Linked DNA regions of Homo sapiens. The protein of the gene in region 2 purifies or fractionates together with the protein of the main gene of each other region. This does not show direct contact. Each region holds a gene or a part of one and is shown on either strand. Other genes may lie near its edges.

Evidence for each region.
Region 1: the proteins of CD2 (region 2) and ITK purify together in Homo sapiens (affinity purification with western blotting, with the first as the bait; one study listed by BioGRID). This does not show direct contact.
Region 3: the proteins of CD2 (region 2) and CD5 purify together in Homo sapiens (affinity purification with western blotting, with the first as the bait; one study listed by BioGRID). This does not show direct contact.

What each region holds. Positions count from the first base shown.
Region 1 is NC_000005.10:157,208,279-157,211,929, reverse strand, and holds part of ITK (tyrosine-protein kinase ITK/TSK), read right to left. Parts: intron 3,042-3,651; coding exon 2,937-3,041; intron 644-2,936; coding exon 562-643; intron 1-561. UniProt on the Homo sapiens protein: Tyrosine kinase that plays an essential role in regulation of the adaptive immune response. Regulates the development, function and differentiation of conventional T-cells and nonconventional NKT-cells.
Region 2 is NC_000001.11:116,757,367-116,761,017, reverse strand, and holds part of CD2 (T-cell surface antigen CD2 isoform 2 precursor), read right to left. Parts: intron 617-3,651; coding exon 386-616; intron 1-385. UniProt on the Homo sapiens protein: CD2 interacts with lymphocyte function-associated antigen CD58 (LFA-3) and CD48/BCM1 to mediate adhesion between T-cells and other cell types. CD2 is implicated in the triggering of T-cells, the cytoplasmic domain is implicated in the signaling function.
Region 3 is NC_000011.10:61,122,854-61,126,504, reverse strand, and holds part of CD5 (T-cell surface glycoprotein CD5 isoform 1 precursor), read right to left. Parts: intron 3,599-3,651; coding exon 3,473-3,598; intron 2,622-3,472; coding exon 2,568-2,621; intron 1,474-2,567; coding exon 1,354-1,473; intron 755-1,353; coding exon 666-754; 3' UTR 664-665; intron 218-663; 3' UTR 1-217. UniProt on the Homo sapiens protein: Lymphoid-specific receptor expressed by all T-cells and in a subset of B-cells known as B1a cells. Plays a role in the regulation of TCR and BCR signaling, thymocyte selection, T-cell effector differentiation and immune tolerance.

The DNA.
Region 1 (3,651 bases), on a different chromosome or scaffold from region 2:
GGGCCAACCTAGTTTCTAGGACTTTGCTCACATCAGCTCCAAAGGCAGGTGCTGTTATCCCTTCCTTTTCTTCCTTTTAAACAGATGGGAAACTGAAGCACAGGCAATTAAGGAACTCGCCCAAGTGTACATAGCAAGTGACAGACTGGGATTTAAACCCAGGTCATCTCACATGAGGGCCTATGCTCTGCTTCTTCATACTATACGAGGAGTTGGCAAATTTGTTCTTAAAAGGCCAGACAGTAAATATTTTAGGTTTTACTGACCATGAGACAAAATCAAGCATCTTATGTAGGTACTTATTAAACTATTTGAAATGAGTTATATACAAATATTGCTCAGAGCCTGACAAGAACAGACAGCAGGCTGGATTTGGTCAATCCCTGAATGATACCAGTTATTGCTTCCTGGGCCCAGGATGAAAACTTGGGAACTTCCACCAACCCCAAAAGAGAAATCAGCCATCAGCTGCTCTCACACCACACTCTATTCTATTGTGGAACCCAACCCTACTATAGGATCAAGAGTGTCAGTGATTCAATGGCAAAGGAGTTTAATTACCTTCTTTAAGGGCCAGCACCCAGCGCTGCCGGCTCTCACGATCTGGAGCAAACACATATAGGAGGTAGTTGTCATGCACCACCTGGAGACACACACACAGAGTTCAAGGTGAGCAGCGTGCATGGAGATAGTTGACTGACAGCAGACCTACTGAGCCGAGAGTGGGGTCTCGGGTGTTTATCGTCATATAGGCAAACATTTGGGTAATTAGGGGGCCAGTATCCTTTTTATCCAGGTGTTTGGGTGCTACAAAAACACAGGGTAAGCAGTTTCAGCTGCTCGTCTCAGATTCCATGCCCCAAGAGAGCAATCACTAAACTAAGACAGCAGGAGAAAGTTCTCCTCTTGACTAGAAACCACATTTATTTCTCATCTTAAGTTTTTAGTGATTAAAAAAATATTTCTGGCACATGGAAGAGAAAGATATTATATGACAAATGTGCAATGAGAGTTTTGAAAACTTCTTATTTTGAAATAGTTTAAGACTCACAAGAAGTTCCAGAAATAGTACAGAGTTCCTGTGTACTTTTCACCTACTTTTCTCCACTGATGACATCTTACGTAACCACAACACATCTTTCAAAACTCACTCATAGGTGGGAATTGAACAATGAGATCACATGGACACAGGAAGGGGAATATCACACTCTGGGGACTGTGGTGGGGTGGGGGGAGGGGGGAGGGATAGCATTGGGAGATATACCCAATGCTAGATGACGAGTTAGTGGGTGCAGCGCACCAGCACGGCACATGTATACATATGTAACTAACCTGCACAATGTGCACATGTACCCTAAAACTTAAAGTATAATAAAAAAAAATTAAAAAAAAAAAAAACCAAGAGATTGTCATTGGTACAATACTGTTAACTAAACTGCAGTCTTCTTTATATTTCACCTCTCTTTTAGGCACTCATTATCATTGAGATTTTGAACAACTGAAAAATACATGCTATTCCTTTTATTTTCAGTCCTCAAAATTCCAACTCATGAGGGTCACTTTTCTAGTAGAAAAAAAGTTCTTTTCTATGCCATGTTAAAAATATGTTCATCCCTCAGGTTGGCAAGCAGGAATGGTACCCTGGGATGTGCAAGGAGATATCCATGCCTTTGAAGCCAGAAGTGCCAAGATTCATATACAAGGACTTTAAAGATACCCTCCACCAGCTCTGTTCAGTAGAACTTTGGGAGGCCGAGGCGGGTCGATCACGAGGTCAGGAGTTTGAGACTAGTCTGACCAACATGGTGAAACCCCATCTCTACTAAAAATACAAAAATTAGCCGGGAGTGTTGGCACACGCCCGTAGTCCCAGCTATTCAGTAGGCTGAGGCAGGAGAATCACTTGAACCAGGGAGGTGGAGGTTGCAGTGAGCCGGGATTGCGCCACTGCACTCCAGCCTGGGTGACAGAGTGAGACTCTGTCTCAAAAAAAAAAAAAAAATTTCTGCAGTGATAGGAACATTCTATAACCAGTGCTGTTTCAGTACAGTAGCTGCCAGCCATGTCCTGCTATTGAACATGTGAAATGTGCCCAATGTGACTAAGAAGCTGAATTTTTAATATCGTTTAATACATTTAAATGTGAACATCCATGTGTGGCTAGTGGCTACTGTACTAGACAGTGCGATTCCAGATAGTCCTCAGATTATAAAATCTGAATCTTTTTGCCTCAGAATCTCCAAGCAATTCATACCCAGCAATTGCAATATGTTGCCTCAAATCATGAGTAAACTGCACTTAAAGCACATTAGGTTTCAGGCCGCTGATAGCAGCTTTATTTCTTCCTTCACTAATTAGGACTTTCCTTGAGGAAGAGAAGACATGAGGGAAAGGGGTATAAGGAATAACCACCTTTTCAAGATTTTGTGCTTAATTTTTGTTCAATAAGTGAAAGAATTAACAAATAAATGTCACTGATGGAAGGAACACATACGTTTCCTAATGGGATTTGTCTAAGTCCTAACCTTGGAGCAGAGAGGCAGAGAGTCATCCGTGTCCACCCTCTCTCACAGTGACTGAGGATTTTTTTTTTTTTTTTTTGACGGAGTCTCACTCTGTTGCCTGGGCTGGAGTGAATGGCACGATCTTGGCTCACTGAAAACTCTGCCTCCTGGGTTCAAACAATTCTCCTGTCTCAGCCTCCCGAGTAGCTGGGATAACAGGCGCCCGCCAGTACGCCCAGCTAATTTTTTGTATTTTTAGTAGAGATGGGGTTTCATGTTGGCCAGGCTGGTCTTGAACTCCTGACCTCGTGATCTGCCTGCCTCAACCTCCCAAAGTGCTAGGATTACAGGCTTGAACCACTGCACCCGGCTGTGACTGAAGATTTTAACCACAGTCCAGGGAATGGGGAACTACCCACCTGATGGACTTACCTGAAACGGGTATTTATAGTGGCATGGGATGCTGATGTCACTTTTCACAATCTCAACACATTTGATTCGGGAGAGCTCAATGGACCCCTTCAGCGTGCGCTTCTTCTGTGGGGAGAGAAGAACATCCCATTCATGTAAGAAAGAAGACAATATTTTTGTCCAGATTGCTCCAGAAATCTACTGCTAGATAAGATCCATTGGCTTTTTAAACCTATTCCAACCCTCCAAACCAAATATCCAAAACTGCCTCCTGGCCCTAAGTGTGGGATAAACACTCTGAGCAGACTCCTGGGGACACATGCCTTTAGAGTCTTCTTCTTGGTGACAGGTTTCCACTCAGTGAGACACGGGGTCATGTACCCCACTGCCCTTGTGACAAATGGCAGCATTGGCAGAACTTGTAGCTGAGATGCGTAGAGAAATCCATGGACACACATATGACAATTTTCTCTTCTCTGTGTCTATCCATGACCATATTAGCATAGTAATTGAGCTCGGACCCGACCTGGATTGTGGTGCATACCCTTAGTGGCACCTTTTTTTTTCTGCCTCTGGCTTCTCCATGTCCTTTAATTATCCGCAGTCCCACAATGACACTCCCAAAGGACATTCCTGACTCTGATCTATAACTATCCCTTCTCCATGTCCTCCCCAACCTCCCCATCAAATACTACTGGGCCTGTGTCTCATTTCCTTGGAAACTTGCTAGCTGTAT
Region 2 (3,651 bases):
TAGGGGAGCAGTTGGAATCATGTCACTAACTAGCCAAGGGACCTTGGGCAAGTCAGTTTCCCTCTCTGGAAAATGGGGCTTTGCATGAGATACTCTCTACAGCTCCTCCTTCTTCAGTTTTGCAATTCTTTCTCCTAGAAGAGGATCTTTAAAATTTCTTGTGGTCAAATTGTGCTCAGTGGGAGGACTCCCAGGATGGAAAACCATAGAACACCACCTCCCCTGATGCTTCCCTTGAAGGTTTCCAGGAGGAAGAGATATGCTTTCATGCCTCATCCTGAGCCAGGGCTGCCTCCCAGCATGAGCACCTGTGACCTGGAGCAGCATGCCTCTGCCTACTGAGGGCCTGGCAGGCTGTGTTTGTGAAGTGATGCCCGCCACGCACCTGGACAGCTGACAGGCTCGACACTGGATTCCTTGCTGACTTTGTTCCCTGCTGTGCACTTGAATTTTGCACTCAGGCTGGTGGTCCACTTGTGTGTGATGACCCTCTGAGAAAGTTTTAGATGTTTCCCATCTTGATACAGGTTTAATTCGGGGTCAGTTCCATTCATTACCTCACAGGTCAGGGTTGTGTTGATACAAGTCCAGGAGATCTTTGGTTTTGAGACCCTCTCTAAAAAGAAAGTAAAGATTCAGTTCAATTTAGGCAATTTTCTGATTTTAATAAACATATCTATTTATACAGTGGGGGATGGAGTCAGTTAGGGACAAGGGAACAATGTCAAAGACCTCTAGCAACTTTTGGAAATTATTTTATTTTATTTTATTTACAAAGAGCATTCAGAAAAAAATTATTTCTGATGACATTCACAGATACATTATGCCACTAAATAGTGTATCATATGTAATGTTTATATGCTGTCTTATACCTTAAAATGCTTTCACATATATGACATCACTTAACCCTAACAGACAGGCTGATGTTTTTCTTCCCATTTACAGACAAAATGTTCAAGGCTCTGAGAGGTCCAGTAGGTGGTCTTGGGGCACCACCTAAAACATGGCAGTCAGGGTTTAGGAGTATGGGTAAGAAAGTGCCTCCAGAGTTTGAGAAAGGCAATGCTTTAACAGCAGCCAGGAACCCCATCCTGGAGGAATCACCACATTGACATGTGACTGGGGACCTTGGATACCTCTGCCCCCACCAAGTTCCTGGAGCAGTGGGCCAGGTGGGTATATGTGAGTGTGTGGGTGTCCAAGGAGCTCAAAGCTCTAGGGAAAAAGAGCACCTGCCTGGGAACCAGAGACTTGATTCTGCCTTTTCCCAGCCCAGAGCTGCTCAGTTGCTCACAGGGTCTACGCTGGCCCTCCTCAGAGCATCAGAAAAGGATCAGAAAAACATACCCTACCTGTCACAAAAGGAGCAACATGTGGCAAAGCCCTGGGCAGATCGTTAGGCACTGACATTATTAGTGGTAATTCATGCATTCGATAATCACAAACCTCTTGCCTCTCCCGCACAGAGATTGCACCACAAAAGGAAAATGCCTAGGCCTAGCATTAGATGGCTCAGGTCTACATCTTAGCCCCATCACTTCCTAGCTGTGTGAACTTTTCCTTTTCCTCGTCTTCTGTTTTTTTTTTTTCTCATTCTTTACTTTGTTCCCCCCAGACTTGCCACTTTTCCCTCTCAGTTTCTCTCCATTCATAATATAGATGGACTAGCTTATTTTTCAATGATTCCCTCCCACTCTGACTTCCAGACACCAATATTTTCCCCATGGAACACCATAGTCAAACTTCATTTATGTCCCGATATATATAGGCATGCAGAAATTAAATTAAAAGTTTTCTTCTCATCCCAAGATTCTGCGTTACTGAGAAGGAAGAAAATGGAAATTATCAACATTCAGCAACAGAGTTAGTACATAGTCTAGAGGTTGGGTCACGAAGTTTGCCCGTCTCTTCAGAATGGAAATATTTTTTTTCTACTTATAACAGCAACACAGTAACATGATTGTGGTGATGGTTGCAAAACTCTGAATATACTAAAGGCCGTTTTAGTGTATGGACAAATTGAATGATAGGTGAATTATCTCAATGAAGCTGTTTAGAAAAAAAAGAAAAGGTCATCATCCTTGCCAAAAAGACCTCTGAGTTTGAATCCTGACTTTGCTCCTGTCAAGCAATGAGACCTTGGACAAGCTGCTTCTGACTAGGTCTCTGTTTTCTTATATATAACAAGGAGATAATAACAACTAGGTCTCAGTATTGTTGGGCGCTTTAAATAAGATCATGTAAGCAAGCACTTGACCCCTAACTGGTAGCCATTATTTCCGCCGCAATGCTAAATGTGACCCAAATGTGAAAACACCAACATGGTCCCCCATGTAGGGCTCACACTCAAAACAGGACACTCGAGTTCTGTGCTGTTTGGAGTCCTGAGATCTGTGGTTTCCAGAGCCCATAATCAGAGGCTCTTTTCAGCGCCATGCTCAACCCCACTACATTTCTACAAGGTGCTCTCCACTCAAGGTTGCAGGACTAGGGTGTGGAAAGTTGTCACTTCAGGGGAGCTGACAGTGTCTGGGATTGCTGGAGTGGGCAATCTGACACTATCTGGGATTGCTGGTAGGCCCAGGTGCTGAAGATGGGGCTGGAGACAGAGAGGAAGAAGGTGGGGTCCCTGCTTCTGGCGACATTTTCTGTGTGAAGCACAGAAATGCTTATTTGCTCACTGAATGGCTGGCCTGTGCTCATGCTGGGGTTCCTGTCTTCCTCCCCAAGCCAGCTTCCTCTTTTCCCTTCTTATCACTCCCTGCCCAGCATCCGTGGGCTTTCAACTCCAATCATTGTACAAGCTGATAAAATATTTTTAAAAGTTTAAAGCAGATTAAAAATTACCCACAACGCCACCACTCAAAGTCAATAATGAATAATATTTTCATGTATATCTTTAGCAGATATTTTCTATTTATATGTATATATATAAATAATATAATATTTCAGCTGGGAGAGGTGGCTCATGCCTGTAATCCAGCACTTTGGGAGGCTAAGGTGGGCGGATCTCTTGAGGCCAGGAGTTCAAGAGTAGCCTGGCCAACATGGTGAAATACATCTCTACTAAAAATATGAAGATTAGCCAGGTGTGTTGGCATGCGCCTCTAATCCAAACTACTCAGGAGGCTGAGGCATGAGAATTGCTTGAACCCAAGAGGCAGAGGCTGCAGTGAGCCAATATTTCACCACTGCACTCCAGGCTGGACGACAGAGTGAGACCCTGTCTCTTTCTGTCTGCCTCTCTCTCTCTCTCTCTCTCTCTATATATATATATGTAATATTTTAAAAATTAAAACTAATTTATGTGATCTTACAGTCTGCCTTTTCCCCTTTATTGTGAAATTATATTATGAAGTTCTTTTCTTAATGAACATCAATAAATGCATATATGCATCTTTTTAAAGGATGCATTCTTAATTTAACTGATTAATAAGTTTCTAACTGCTGACTGTTCTAGTATTTCGCTAACATGAATAATGCAGTGATGGGCACCCTTGTGGAGTAGTACCTCCGTATACATTCACTAAGATAGCGTCTTAGAACTGATCCAACCTAAGGCCTTCCATGGATGAGAACTCCTTAATTCTGAGTTGCTGGGATTAACCCCTTCCCTACTAGCATCTGCTTCTAAGGGGCCCTCCATTGCCT
Region 3 (3,651 bases), on a different chromosome or scaffold from region 2:
ACCACAGCTTCCACAAGTGGAGGGGCGGCCGAGCTGTTGTGCAGCAGAGTGTGAGCTGGCCTGCCACTCGGGGCAGCAGCGCCTGTCCGGAAGGCTTCTGGCCTCTGTCCATGTTCTGGCCGGGGTAGAAATAGGGACATGATTTCAAGTGAAGAGCGGACAGTTTTCTCAGGACAAACAGGTCTGGCTCTCGGCTTTTTGCTCATGGATCCCAGTTCTGTGGGGTGAGAAGGAAACGTGTTAGAGGAAGACACCGCAGAGGTGATGCAGGGAGGTCGGGGACAGGACCCATGCTCTGGGCTCCATCTTGGGGACGGCTGCTGTCCTGAGCCAGGGGCTCCTTCTGCCCGCTGGCAGGTTGGCAGCTCTAGAGGGGTGTGACTCCATCACGGAGCTCTTAGGGACTCTGCCTGTGTGGCCTTCCGAATGGAGTTTAAGAGTTGATTGTTAAAGTTCATGATTGCTCTGCTCTAATTGTCAAATCAGCTCGTATAACCTAAACAGCTGACGTTTGTCTTTCCCTTTACAAGAATCAAGATGCTGGGGGTCCCCTATTCATGTATGGGCAGGGTGGGACTGAGGGGAGGCATTGAGTGGCTGCTGCTCACCCCCAGGACTGTGGGGGACCCTGGGGTGCTGGGGTCAGGCTGGAGACGGGCTCACCTTTACAGCCTCTGAGCCCCATGCAGATCATAGTCACTGTCGGAGGAGTTGTCAGGCTGCATGGAGGAGCGATGCAGAGCCCCTTCCAGAGCTGGGGAAAGAAAGGACGCTGTTTGCAGAGGGTTTTTGACTCCACAGAGCCCCTTGGATCCTAGAGCCGCTGCCCACAGTGGGTTGGAAGATCACAGGGGCTTTATGAGCCGGTGACAACCCCTTATCTGTTTTGATCAAATCAGCCAAACGTTCACTAATGATGCTGAACTCCAGGCTCCCTGGGGCTTAATTGGTAGTGCCAGTCTGGGAGCCTTTAGTACAGCGCTCCTGCAGCCCACTTAATGGCTCTCTTCTAGCCCGGAGGAATCCAAGGGGCCTCATTTACCATCCAGGCCCCTCAAGGCCCTGAAGGGAAACAGGCCCATTAGGTCACAGCAAGGCTGGGGTTGATGGCTTTCTGAGTGCATTCTTCTCTCCAGATGAGTAGTTTGTGGTCTCAAACGGGACAGCTGGGGCCTGCAAAGGCTATATCCCTTCCGTACCCCTGCTGCATCCTGCGATGTTTGATCCCCTTGCACCCTGGGGTCTCCATTCTGTCTTTGGGCCATCACCCGACCTTCAAGGGCATCACGTGACCTGCCTTGGCGGCCTGCTGCAGCCCTGCCTGCGTGCCTGGGAGCACCCGCTGGTGCTTACCTGGATAAGCTGACAGGTGGGAGTTCCTGGGAGGTTGGCTGTATTCGTTATCCACGTGGGAGGCTGTGGGGTTCTCAGCATGGGATCGGACGGTTGCCGTGTGGTTGCGATGGAAAGACACTGGGCAGATGGTAGGAGACAGTGTCAGACTTGTGGCTGTGTCCTCCGTCTCCTTCCCCAGCAGGTGCCCAGAACTTTAATCTCCTATTCCCATGATGTTAGCGGGGAGAGGACAAAGGCACCCACAGCCCCTTCAATGCATCCCCCTCTCCTTTCTTCCTGGGAGGTTCATGCTAGCAGGATCAGCAGCAGACTTTTAGAGCAGGTTTGGGTAACCCAGCAATCTGACTGGCAGGGTGGGGCCTTCCGTGAGTCGGTCATCAAGCATTTACCAAGCAGGAGACTGGAGCACAGGTGACGGGACAGATCTGCTCCCTGCCCTCCAGGAGCTGAGGGCCTGTATGTTATTAAGAAAGTTTCCAGAGCCTTTCTTAATAACAAATTCAACAGAGCCCTCTTGAAGGATTTGGCTGTGGACTTGGGAAGGGGGAAGAAGGCAGAATGGGAGGCAGGAAGAGCGCCATGTCTCCATCCATTAGGGTGTCTCTGACTGTGGCTGGAAGGAGGGAGGATGAAGACCAGGGATGGTGTTGGGCTGGCTGCACCAAAATGTCCTAATACTGGCCCTGTAAGTTGTTCCATGATGAAAATAACTTGGACAGCCCTTCTTAATGGATCCTTGCTTTGGAGATGGGCAATACAAAAATGCCCATTAAGGTTCTGATAAGTCCTGAAATAGCTATGCTTAGCTGTGCCTAACTCATGGTTTTCCAGATCTGTTGATCAGGGAGGCCTCTTGTGAGTGCTGCCTGTTAACATCCACTGGCTACTGTGTTGGGGAATACTGCTGGAGGAGGTGAGGGCTGCTGGGGACCCTAGAGATGGGGCGAGGGACAGAAAGGATACCATGAGATGTTTCTACACTCTGAGGCTTCAGCGGTAGAAACCGCTCAGCCATCAGCCCATCAAGAAGCCTCCGCCCTCCCTGGTGTGGGGACGTCTGTTGGCCACAGTCACATGTCAGACAAGCACCGTGGAGATCAGAGGCTTCAAGCAGCCACAGGCTCCGTCTGTGGTCAGCAGAGAGCCTCGACTCTGCCTCCATGGCCTCTGTCCAGGGCCTGAGGGAGGCTCCTGCCTCCGGGGACACTTACTGTTTTGGTTCATTCCCGTTGGGCCAATCCACTGGCGCTGCTTCTTCTGGCGGACTGGGCAAGAGACAAGAAAGGCACATCAGAGTGGTGGGGGCAGGTATGGGTGGGGGCAGGCAGGGGTGGGGATGGGGCTGGGCCTGGGAGGGAGATGGTGGCGGCAGGTGCAGCTGAGGGCAGGGCTGCTGGGCTCTGCCCCCTGGAGTCTCTCGTAGGCCTCAGTTTCCTAACTTGCTCGGGAAGGGAATTGCAGCCATCCTGTGCCGAAGGAGCAGGCCGAGGATGGTGTAGAGGTGCCCGGCTCCCCAGGAGAAAAGACCACAGGCGTTTAGAACTAGACCTGGGCAGGCACTAGGACCTAACACTGTCCTGCTGGGCCCTCTGTTCCCAATCTCTCCCCTCTCACTTCTTTGTCTGAATAATTTCCTCTTAAGTTCTGCAAGGCAAGGAGAACAACCCCCCGCGTTCACAAGGTGTGCGATTGCCCATTTGGTAGATGAAGAAACTGAGGGTCAGAGAGAGGAAGTGTCCCAATCAGCATCTTGGGCAGTGGTAAGTGGTGGGGCTAGGCCTGGGATGTGTGTCTCCTACCATCAGAGGCTGTACTGAACACCCTCTGGGCCTGCCACAGCCTTGGGAATGGCCACACCTTCTCTCTGACCTGGAGTGGGTCTCAGCTGGGCTCCAGAGATGGACAAATCAGCAATTGCAATTTTGTTTACTTTGTGTTTCTGTTACTTGGGGCAGAAAATGGCTAATGGGCAGGAGAGGGGAAGGCTGGGTGGTGAAGCAGAGGTGTCCTGCGTGCCCAGCTCTCTGGAGGCATGACCCCTCCTCCGGAGGACTCTAGTGCAGCCCCTCCAGTCTCTGCACGTGGGAACGGAGCCACTCAGGGCCGTGACACCTACATTTCTTCACTAGCTTCTTGTAGGCAAGGGGGCCGCACACGACCAGCAGCACCACCAGGAGCACCAGGGCCAGGATGATGCTTGCCACCGTGCCTGCGGCCAGGCCTGCGGGGTTTGGATCCTGGCCTGGGGAAGGAGGAAGAGTTAGGTCAGTCCCAGTCCTGGGGGGAGAAAAACTG